2 separate regions of the Homo sapiens genome follow, and region 2 is linked to region 1. Evidence: fine-mapped expression QTL. A gene starts in region 1. The other region holds a variant in brackets. All regions are shown on one strand. Distances are between the middles of the regions.

The links.
Region 2: its variant is fine-mapped to the expression of LRRN1 in whole blood (INTERVAL, PIP 0.96).

Annotation. Positions count from the first base shown.
Region 1 is chr3:3,797,315-3,801,704 of GRCh38, forward strand. It overlaps LRRN1 (leucine rich repeat neuronal 1), which reads left to right and starts at 2,117. Exons shown (of 2, transcript NM_020873.7): 1 at 2,117-2,605. LOC100130207 (a long non-coding RNA gene) reads right to left here and starts at 3,561. Exons shown (of 6, transcript NR_149025.1): 1 at 3,387-3,561. RefSeq lists silencers at 2,018-2,087, 2,098-2,187, 2,328-2,437.
Region 2 is chr3:3,982,143-3,986,532 of GRCh38, forward strand. It overlaps the pseudogene PNPT1P1. Among named protein-coding and RNA genes, the nearest start is that of LRRN1, 180 kb to the left of the region's middle. The variant G/C (reference allele first, on the strand shown) is at 1,938.

The sequences.
Region 1 (4,390 bases):
GGGAAAAGCTGCCTTTCTCACTCTTGCCTTGGGGAAGAGGGAAATTAGTTTAAATAAATGATATGCTAATTTGAAAAGAAATGAATCGAACAGTGGAGAGACAGAGTCCATTTCCTCCACTGGAGCAGCTAGTGCCTTTGAGATATTCTGTCACATGCGGAATCATTATCCCACCTGTCTGAATTGATGTCTTGTTTTAGTCTTCAATACCTGCCTAATAATGCCTAGAGCTTACATCTGTCGTTGAATGCTTACTATATACTAAGCACTGTCCTAAGCATTTTACATGTTTACTCCCACTTAACCATCACAATCCTTTGGGATAAGTACTGATATTAACCCTACTTTAGAGCCAAGGAAATTAAGCCTTAAAGAGATAAAGTGACTTGCCATTAGGGACACAGCTCATAAATTGCAGGGCTGGGACCTAAGCAGTGTTGGCCTGGTTTCAAAATTCACACCTTGGTCCCTGACTCACACCATTCTCATGAAGTCTCTTCCAAAACCTGGAGGCTGTTCTAGATCTGGCCTCCCAAGAGCAACTCTCACCATCATTAATTGCTCCGACTGCTCCTCCAAGACCTACCTCTGTAAAGCTCCTCCTTGAAGGGCACAACCTCATCTCTCTTCCACTCCCAGGAAGGCAGGCTGGAAACCTAATAGAGACTCCCTAAGAAACCTGCATTCTATCTTTCCCTGACCATTCAATTTCCGTACTTCCACCAGAGCCCAACTTCTATCAGACAAACTCCATGCTATCTGCATGCTAACTCCATGGATAATCTGCATGAAAAGGGGGGAAAGAGACAAAATCATGTTACAAAACTTGGGCAAGGGTCTAGACTCAACTTGCTTTGAAAGATCTTAAATCTTCCCATTCATTTGTAGACAGCAGTGGGCCTTTTTCTTCCTCTGCTCTGCACGACCTTCTAGCCCAAGTGCTAGTATCACCTTTTCCTAAAGACTTTTAAGACAAACTGTGACCATTTATGTCTACATGACACAGTTTCAGGATAACAAAGTGTGAAGACACACAAAGACGTCAAACATTTATCAGAGACCTAAGCGAAACGCCAATAAATGTTACAGGGATCAAGAATATGGTTACTGACATTGAATGTATCCTGTGGCTTTGAAGAATCCAAAGGATGATTCTCGAATAATGTATCCTTCCAAATTCTCCAGAAGTTCTAAGTTTAGACATCATAATGAAATGTCACCACGTTCCTCTGCCAGAAGTTGTTCAGTACTGAGGGGCTAATGATGCTTTCGCTTAAAGCCGATTCCCCCAATAAAGGGTGCCAAGGCTTTTCTGAAGCCCTGCTTCCGGCTGGCGACTTTGAAGCTGAGACGCAGGTTCACGCGCAGTTTCCGAAGACCTATTCCGTCCCCACCCTCCTCCCCTTCCTCGGAGACACCTCCACTTAACACTGCCTTCTCAGTCCCTCGCCGCCTGTTTAAACACAACTTCCACCCCTCACAAATCAGAAAGCTGTAATTTCAAAGTTTCAGAAACGTTTTCGGAAAGCCTCCTCCAATGGGAAGCGACTTCGCCGCTGAGTTAAGCGTCCGAATCCTCCTTCCCGCGGCAGGGACACCGGCCCGGGCCAGGTCTGCGGAGGACGCCCCCGGGCGCGCACACACAGCCCGAGGACGCGCCCTGTATTTTAAGACGCAGGGTCGGATTTCACCCCGAAACTTGGCTCCCACAGCCCCAGGCCGAACTGTGTCTGGTTCTCAGCCCCCGAGCCCGAGTTCTACGCCGCAAAGAGATGGGGCCCCATTGTGCCTAGCTGGCCTCCTAGCACGGACGTGTATTTTCTTTTGGTCTGTCTTTTGCTAAAAACCGGCAGTGCGCTTCGCCTCCCTGCCCAGCCGCAGCCTGCCGTCCCCTAGACAAAAAGCGGCGACCGCGGCCCGGCCACCCGAGCCCCGCCGCGCTGCGCCTTTGTTGGGCGGTCCACAGATGGTGCCCAGCACGGGGCCGCGCCGAGGGCGGGGGCGGGAGGCCGCGAAGAGGGTCGGGCGGGAGGGGAGGAGACGGCGGAGCAGCCAATCCGCGCGCGGCCCATCAGCTGACCGCCTTTGCTTACACCAGGTGCACGCCGGCTGCGGGGAGCACAAAGCGGGGCGCACCGCGGGCGCCGGCAACGAGCCGGTGAACGAGGCGAGGCCCGTGCGCCCGCGGCTGCAAGCGCCCGCCTGGCGGGGAGAGGGGCCGACGGCGTCAGCCCGGGCGGCGGCATCCCTAGGCGCCTGGGGCGCCTTCCTCCGGACCTGGCCGCTCGCTGCCCCGCCCTCTGCACCCCACTTCTCCGACCCTCCTTCCCAGTCCTGCCTCCCCCTGCCCTGGCCTCTGAGAGCCGACTGAGCCCAGCCCCGTGCAGCAGCGGTTGCCTGTGTCGCCGCCTAGTCTCCGGTCTTGGTGCTCTCCCGGGGGTGCCCCAAGGAGCCAGTGCGCGCTGCGGGCTGGGAAGGAGGCGCCGCTCAGCTAGTCCTCCTCCTCCTCCTCGTCTTTCTCCTCCTCCTGCTGCTGCTGCCGCCGCCGCCGCCGTGGGTGCCGGGTCCGCGCGCACCCCAACACCCCCACCAGCTGGGCCTCGGGGTAAGTCCCTGGCCGGCCGCGCCGCGGCAGGAGGTGTGGGAGGCAGCGAGGGGAAGTCGAGGCAAACTTGGTGGCGTGGGAGACCCTACGGGGTCTGGGGAACCTCAGGGTAAGATCGCGGGCCTGAGGGGGACGAGGGGGCGCGGCTCACGGAGCTGGGGAAAATGACGAAGTCGGGAAACGAGAATATAGTGCCCCGTTTCCCCCCGTCCCCCTTGCCAAAAAAAAAAAAAAAAAGGTGTGGGAGAGCGATAGTTGGGAAGGCAGGCCAGATAGAAACAGGCAAAAAAAGGCAGTGACCGGAGCCGAGCCTGCTGGATTTCAGGGGCCGACCAGGGGAGGGAGGTGCCCGGGGACGGGGAGGGAGGAGGGCTGCCGGGATGTGAACCGGGGAAGGCAGCTGGGGCTGGAGAGCAGCGCGGAAAGGGGGCCCAGGGAGCTGGAAAGAGGGCCAAGAGGAGGGCAAGGAAGGTGGCGGGCGACGGGGAGAGGAAAGAAAAAGGGTGTCTTGGCGGTGGCCTTGGTAAGAGAAAGGGGCAAGGGGTATAATTGACAAGGCACTGAAAGTATTGAAGTCAGAGCCTTGGGAAGGATCTACCGAACTCTCGGCGGTCCACGCGGGGACAGACCTCAGCCCGTGAGCCTTGAGCTCCACGCGGGGACAGACCTCAGCCCGTGAGCCTTGAGCTCCACGCGGGGACAGACCTCAGCCCGTGAGCCTTGAGCTCCACGCGGGGACAGACCTCAGCCCGTGAGCCTTGAGCTCCACGCGGGGACAGACCTCAGCCCGTGAGCCTTGAGCTCCACGCGGGGACAGACCTCAGCCCGTGAGCCTTGAGCCCAGAAGGAGTGGCAGCCTCAGGACGTTTGCCAGGTGGCCTGGAATGTGAGGGAAGCCTCAGCCCCGCCAGGAACAGAGCTGGCGCTGAGTTCCCGGCTCGGCCCGGGTCAGAAGCGAGGAAAGTTTGCCGGCGAGTGTCCTTTGTGCTGCGTGGAGAGGGGTGTGGGCGGCCGCCGACTCGGCGCTTCCCCGCCGCCCGCCCAGGGAGTCCCTGCCTGGCAAGCTGGGGCTCGGGGAAAAGTCCAGCAGCGAGAGGGCCGCGTGTCCCGGGACGGTTCCAGGGGAGCCCGCGCGGAAACGCGGACCAGGCGCTTCGGCCCGGATGCCGGATCCAGGAGAAGGGGACCTCGCTTGCCGTGTCCACCGCCGCGGCCCCAGCGCCAAGAACAGAGCCTGGCCGTGAGTGAACGACTGGCCGGGGTACAAATGGTTCTGAAGCACTTGAAGCTCACAGGCAAAGGCTAAGAGTCTAAATCCCATCCCGCCGTAAGTATTTTCATTCCCAAACCTAAATCGTAAAGGAAAAGTGGAATTCTAATTGGGTGAGGGAACAGGTGCTGCCGACTCTGGCTTTTGCGTGGAGGATTTTCTAAAAGACAACATGTTTTGTTTTGTCTTGCCATGACAATCTAAATCATGTTAGTGGAATAGGCTCATTATTTCATTTTTAAAAGCTAGGGCTGGAGGAGTGGAAAGTTCAGGAAGGCACTTTGATCAGTATAAATCTAGAGTAAAAGTGTTATTGGCTCCAGGGCCATATGTGTCCCGAAGTCTCTGATTTGCATGCAAATGTGAGCGGATCCTGGCAGATGTCTGGCCTCATCCATTCACATGAAGGAATTTGAAAAGACAAGGAGTCTTCAGTTAACAATAGACCTTAAGAAAAGAGAATAAAGACGCAGTGTGAGTTTTTCTGTTTGGGAATTCCATGGTTTGCTGACACC
Region 2 (4,390 bases), 180 kb after region 1:
GCCAACTTCTAATCCTAGGGCAGTAGGATGTTTAATATTTCATTGATCAAGTTGTGTGTTATAAAGCAGTACCAAAATCATATTTGGATATAATTTTACCATTACACCAGTATCTCTGCTTTCAGTTATTGTGGCAGTACACACTGCTCCAAATTCTAATTGCTGCTCCTGATCATCCTTGCGGATTTCAGCAATGAAGTCTCTTGCCTCATGCATAGCACCGGGTGTTGGTGCAAATATAGAAAACGTTTCTTCATCCACCTGACTAATAGTTACAACTGTTTCAGCCTGAAGTTTTTTAAGTTATATCCACCTGGTCCAACAAATTTTTCTCATTTTGATAATGGAACCTGAACAGTTTCTACAACAGGTCCATTTTCTTTTCTAGATGCTTGAGGTTTTGAAATAGCTTTGTTCATGATCTGTAAAATCTCCTTTTTGCCACTGAAGCTTGTTGAATAGCCTCCATTACAATTTTCATTGTTATTCCAGGTAATTTAATATCTGCCTGTAATGCAGTTATTCCTTTATTAGTGCCAGCTATTTTGAAGTCCATGTCACCATTGTAAGCTTCAATTCCCAGAATATCTGTTAGCAAATGATAATCTTCTATTTCACCCTTCTCAAGATCGGTTTTGGTGGCCAATCCCATTGCTACACCTGTGACAGCAGATTAAATTGGAAGCCCTGAATCCATTAATGCTAAACTTCCACCACATGCAGATGCCATAGAAGATGACCCATTTGACTCTAGGACTTCAGATGTAACTCTTATGGCAAAAGGAAAATCTTTGGGAATAACAGGATACAAAGCTTTCTCAGCAAGAGCATCAGGCCCAAGTTCTCTTCTATTTATACCGGTGACTTTGACAATTTCATTAGTTGCATAAGGAGGAAACTCATAGTGCAGCATGAAATTTTTATCTTTTATCCCATTTATAGTTGTTATAACTCGATCCAACTTAATACTGGATTCTAATGAATCAAATGTAACAGCACAAAGCAGCTGTGTTTGTCCTCTTTGAAATAATTCTGATCCATGAAGGGTTTTAAACATATCTACCTCACAACTTATATTCCGAAGTAAAGTCAAATCCCGACCATCGCATCTTTTGTATTCATTCAAAATAATACTTCTAAAAACTTTCTTTGCAACAGTATTGAAGGATTCTATTATCTCATATAGATCGACCTCTGGAAATATTTCTTTTAGTTGTTCCTCTGTATCTAATCTTATTTTGTTAACAGCTTCATCTCTGGAAATTTTATCATGTTCATAATCTGTAAAAACTGCATAGAGTCTCTCCATAGTGAGTTTATGAGCATGTTTCACAATCTCTTGTGAAGGGGTAAATAACTTCTGAGGTGTCCTCTTGGTAACACCAATTTCTTTTACCAGCTGCTGGATGCCCTGAATTATTTGCTGGGTATATTTCACTCCCACTTTGATAGCGTGGCAAAAGTCCTGCTGTAAAATGTTCTCTGCAGAGGCTTCCAACATGACAGTCTGACTTTTAGGTGCTCCAGCAACCACTACATTTAAAGTACTAGAAGACATTTCTTTTCTTGTTGGGTTAACAACACATTCTCCATCAGTCATTCCTATTCATACTGTCCCAACAGGTCCATTCCAAAGAATATCTGATAATGAGAGGGCTACAGAGGTTGCCATTAATTGCTAGGACATCAAGTTCATTAATACCATCTACTGCTAACAGATTACACAGAACCTGTATATCACAGAAGTAGCCAGCTGGAAAGATAGGTCTAACTGAACAATCTACTATTCAACGTGTAAGAATTTCTTTATCAGAAGTACTAATCTCTCTTCTCAGAGGGTTTGTGGGAATTCTACCTACTGCAGCAGCCTTTTGTCCGTAGTCAACCACCAAAGGCATAAACTGGGAAGGGGAAGGTTTTGTTTTACTGACGGCTGT[G/C]GCCATTACCGCAGTGTCACCTGACTGTATTACAGCAGAGCCATTTGCAAATCTGGCCAGCTTTCCAGAGGATATTTCTAATTTCCTGTTGCCCAAGTCCATGGCCACAGCTTGAGACCCTGTGCTACTCAATAGTGCTCGCACCTGCAACTGGATGAGTGCCCGATCCCACCCTGGCAGACAGAAGGGACCATCACTCAGCGGCCGGAGCCACAGGCTCAGTGAGGTCTTAGCTTCCTCCTGTTATCCTCTGTAGCAATGCCTTAGTGTTTCCTTCACAGCACTTATTACAATTTGTAGTCATTTACTGATGTGATTATTGGTTATTATCCCTCATGAGTCTCACAGCTAAATGACAGCAGGGATCAAGTCTGTCTTCTTCCCTGTGTCACAGCTGTATCTGGCACCAAGCACATACAAGGCATTTGATAAGTATTCTTTAACATAATGAAAATGAAGTACATTTATAACACTATTCTTTCTACCCAAAGAGAACAAAAAAATTATGGACTTCCATTCTGTGTCAATATATTCAACAGGATAGAAGAAATAACACAACTGAAGGTTGCAAAATACTGAAAGTTATCAACGCTTATTCTCTAGAGATCCTTGTTAAACAATGTCCCATCCATCAAGGGTGAATTAGATTTGTCCCTGGCTTGAGGACAGAATAAGATGACTTCACCCGACTCCTTATAAACTTATAATTTTATGAAAAATCCATGAGCTCTCATCTTTCCAGCACTCTGATAACGAGGTAATTACCCTTTTAATGAAAAAGGAAGCCTTTTTATATCTATCCCCATTGAATTATGGACCTCAAAATTGAAATGAAGTCTAATAGACATCAAGCACAACTACCTGCCAGTTCCTAACAAGGATGAGGAAAAAAAAATAGTGATATCTGGGGAGCCAACGGGCAGTATGACAGGGTGTCCTTCCTGCCTTCTCTGATGACACTTTGCTATCAACACCAGTTCTTCCTTTTGTGCCTTACTCAGTTTGTAAGCCAGTCTGCAACAGTAGAAAAGTCATTAGTCACCCTTCCCTATCTGTTCCATGGGCTTTGAAATGAAGCCCTGGTTCAGGTTCCCATTTAGGTGTGACTTTCTCCATTCCTACTATGTTGACTGTAATCAAAGGGCTGGGCTCAGTCCTGACAACACGTTCAGATCCCACACTGCACTAGCCCTGCTCTAGAATCTCAATCTATTTTCCCAGTGTCCTAAGACCTGTCAAAGCCCCTGCCACCAGCCTCTTCCACTACTGACTGAGCTCTTCCATCAAACGACTGATTAATGGAACCACAACACCGACACCCCACATGAATTGCACCCGGAGCCCACAATCCATACTCCTTCCCCATGCTCCTTCAGTTTATCGATGCTGTTTAATTATCAGTAGTGGCTCGGATTAAGCCCTAAACATCTAGCTACCCTGTTCCACAGCCAAGACTGTTACTCTCACTCCTCACTCCTAGGTCTTGCCTAACTCCCCCCATTTCAGGTATTTTATAGCTGAGTCTCTACAAGTTATCACTCACAGCTAAATTCACACTTTTACTTGGTCTCTACATTTTAATCCTTGGTGATCTCTTTTTATGCAATTGCCAGTTTAGAGGCATAATCTTGTAAACCTTTACCTTCTGGACAGTAGCATCGGAAAGTTCATTACTTTCAGTTACGATACAACAGCGAGTGACAAATGCAGCTTTGGAAAGCGGAAAACTTCTTTCTCCTTGAGAGTCTCTGCACAACTTTCCACATTTGGAACCCAAGGACATTTCCTTTCTCTCTCTGCTAACATGGAGTACAGAAAGGTTACATTAGCTAATAAAAGCCCTCTGCTGACAAAAGATGCGTTTGAAAAGTCACTCGAAAAGGGAGCTCTCTCGATAGCTTTATTAAAATAAAATGCCATATCTTTGTGAAGTTAAAAGTCTCTGGATTGTGGTTAAAAGTCTGGTCTGCTCCTTATACAATGGAAAGTCTTTCAAAAGCCACGTGTTTCTTAAGCTGGCCTCACCATGCATAACAGCTAGAATATAAATCTAGACTCTCGCCGCCCATCTATCTTTTCTTTTCTGTGTCATGTAGAGGTTCCTATGTGAAGGAAAGATCTCCAGAATAAGATGAGAGATAGCTTTTATAAGAACACCAAATGATAGAAATTATGGAAATCATGATATTGAAATAATTTCTTCCAAGTTAAAACATCAGGAACATTTTTGCTTATCAGATAGGCAAGAATACTTAAATTTGAATGTTGGTCAGCATTCAACAAGAAGGCAGTGCCTAGACCCTTGGCTTATGAATTGGGGGCAATTGCAGCTTCCTTCATTCCTCTGAAGGGTTGAGAACTTATGCAAAGCCATGGGTGCAGTGCTGTCCGACGCCCTGCAGAGGTGATGCCAAGAGTAAGGCTAAATATGCCGTTTTTGAGAGGGAGCCCAG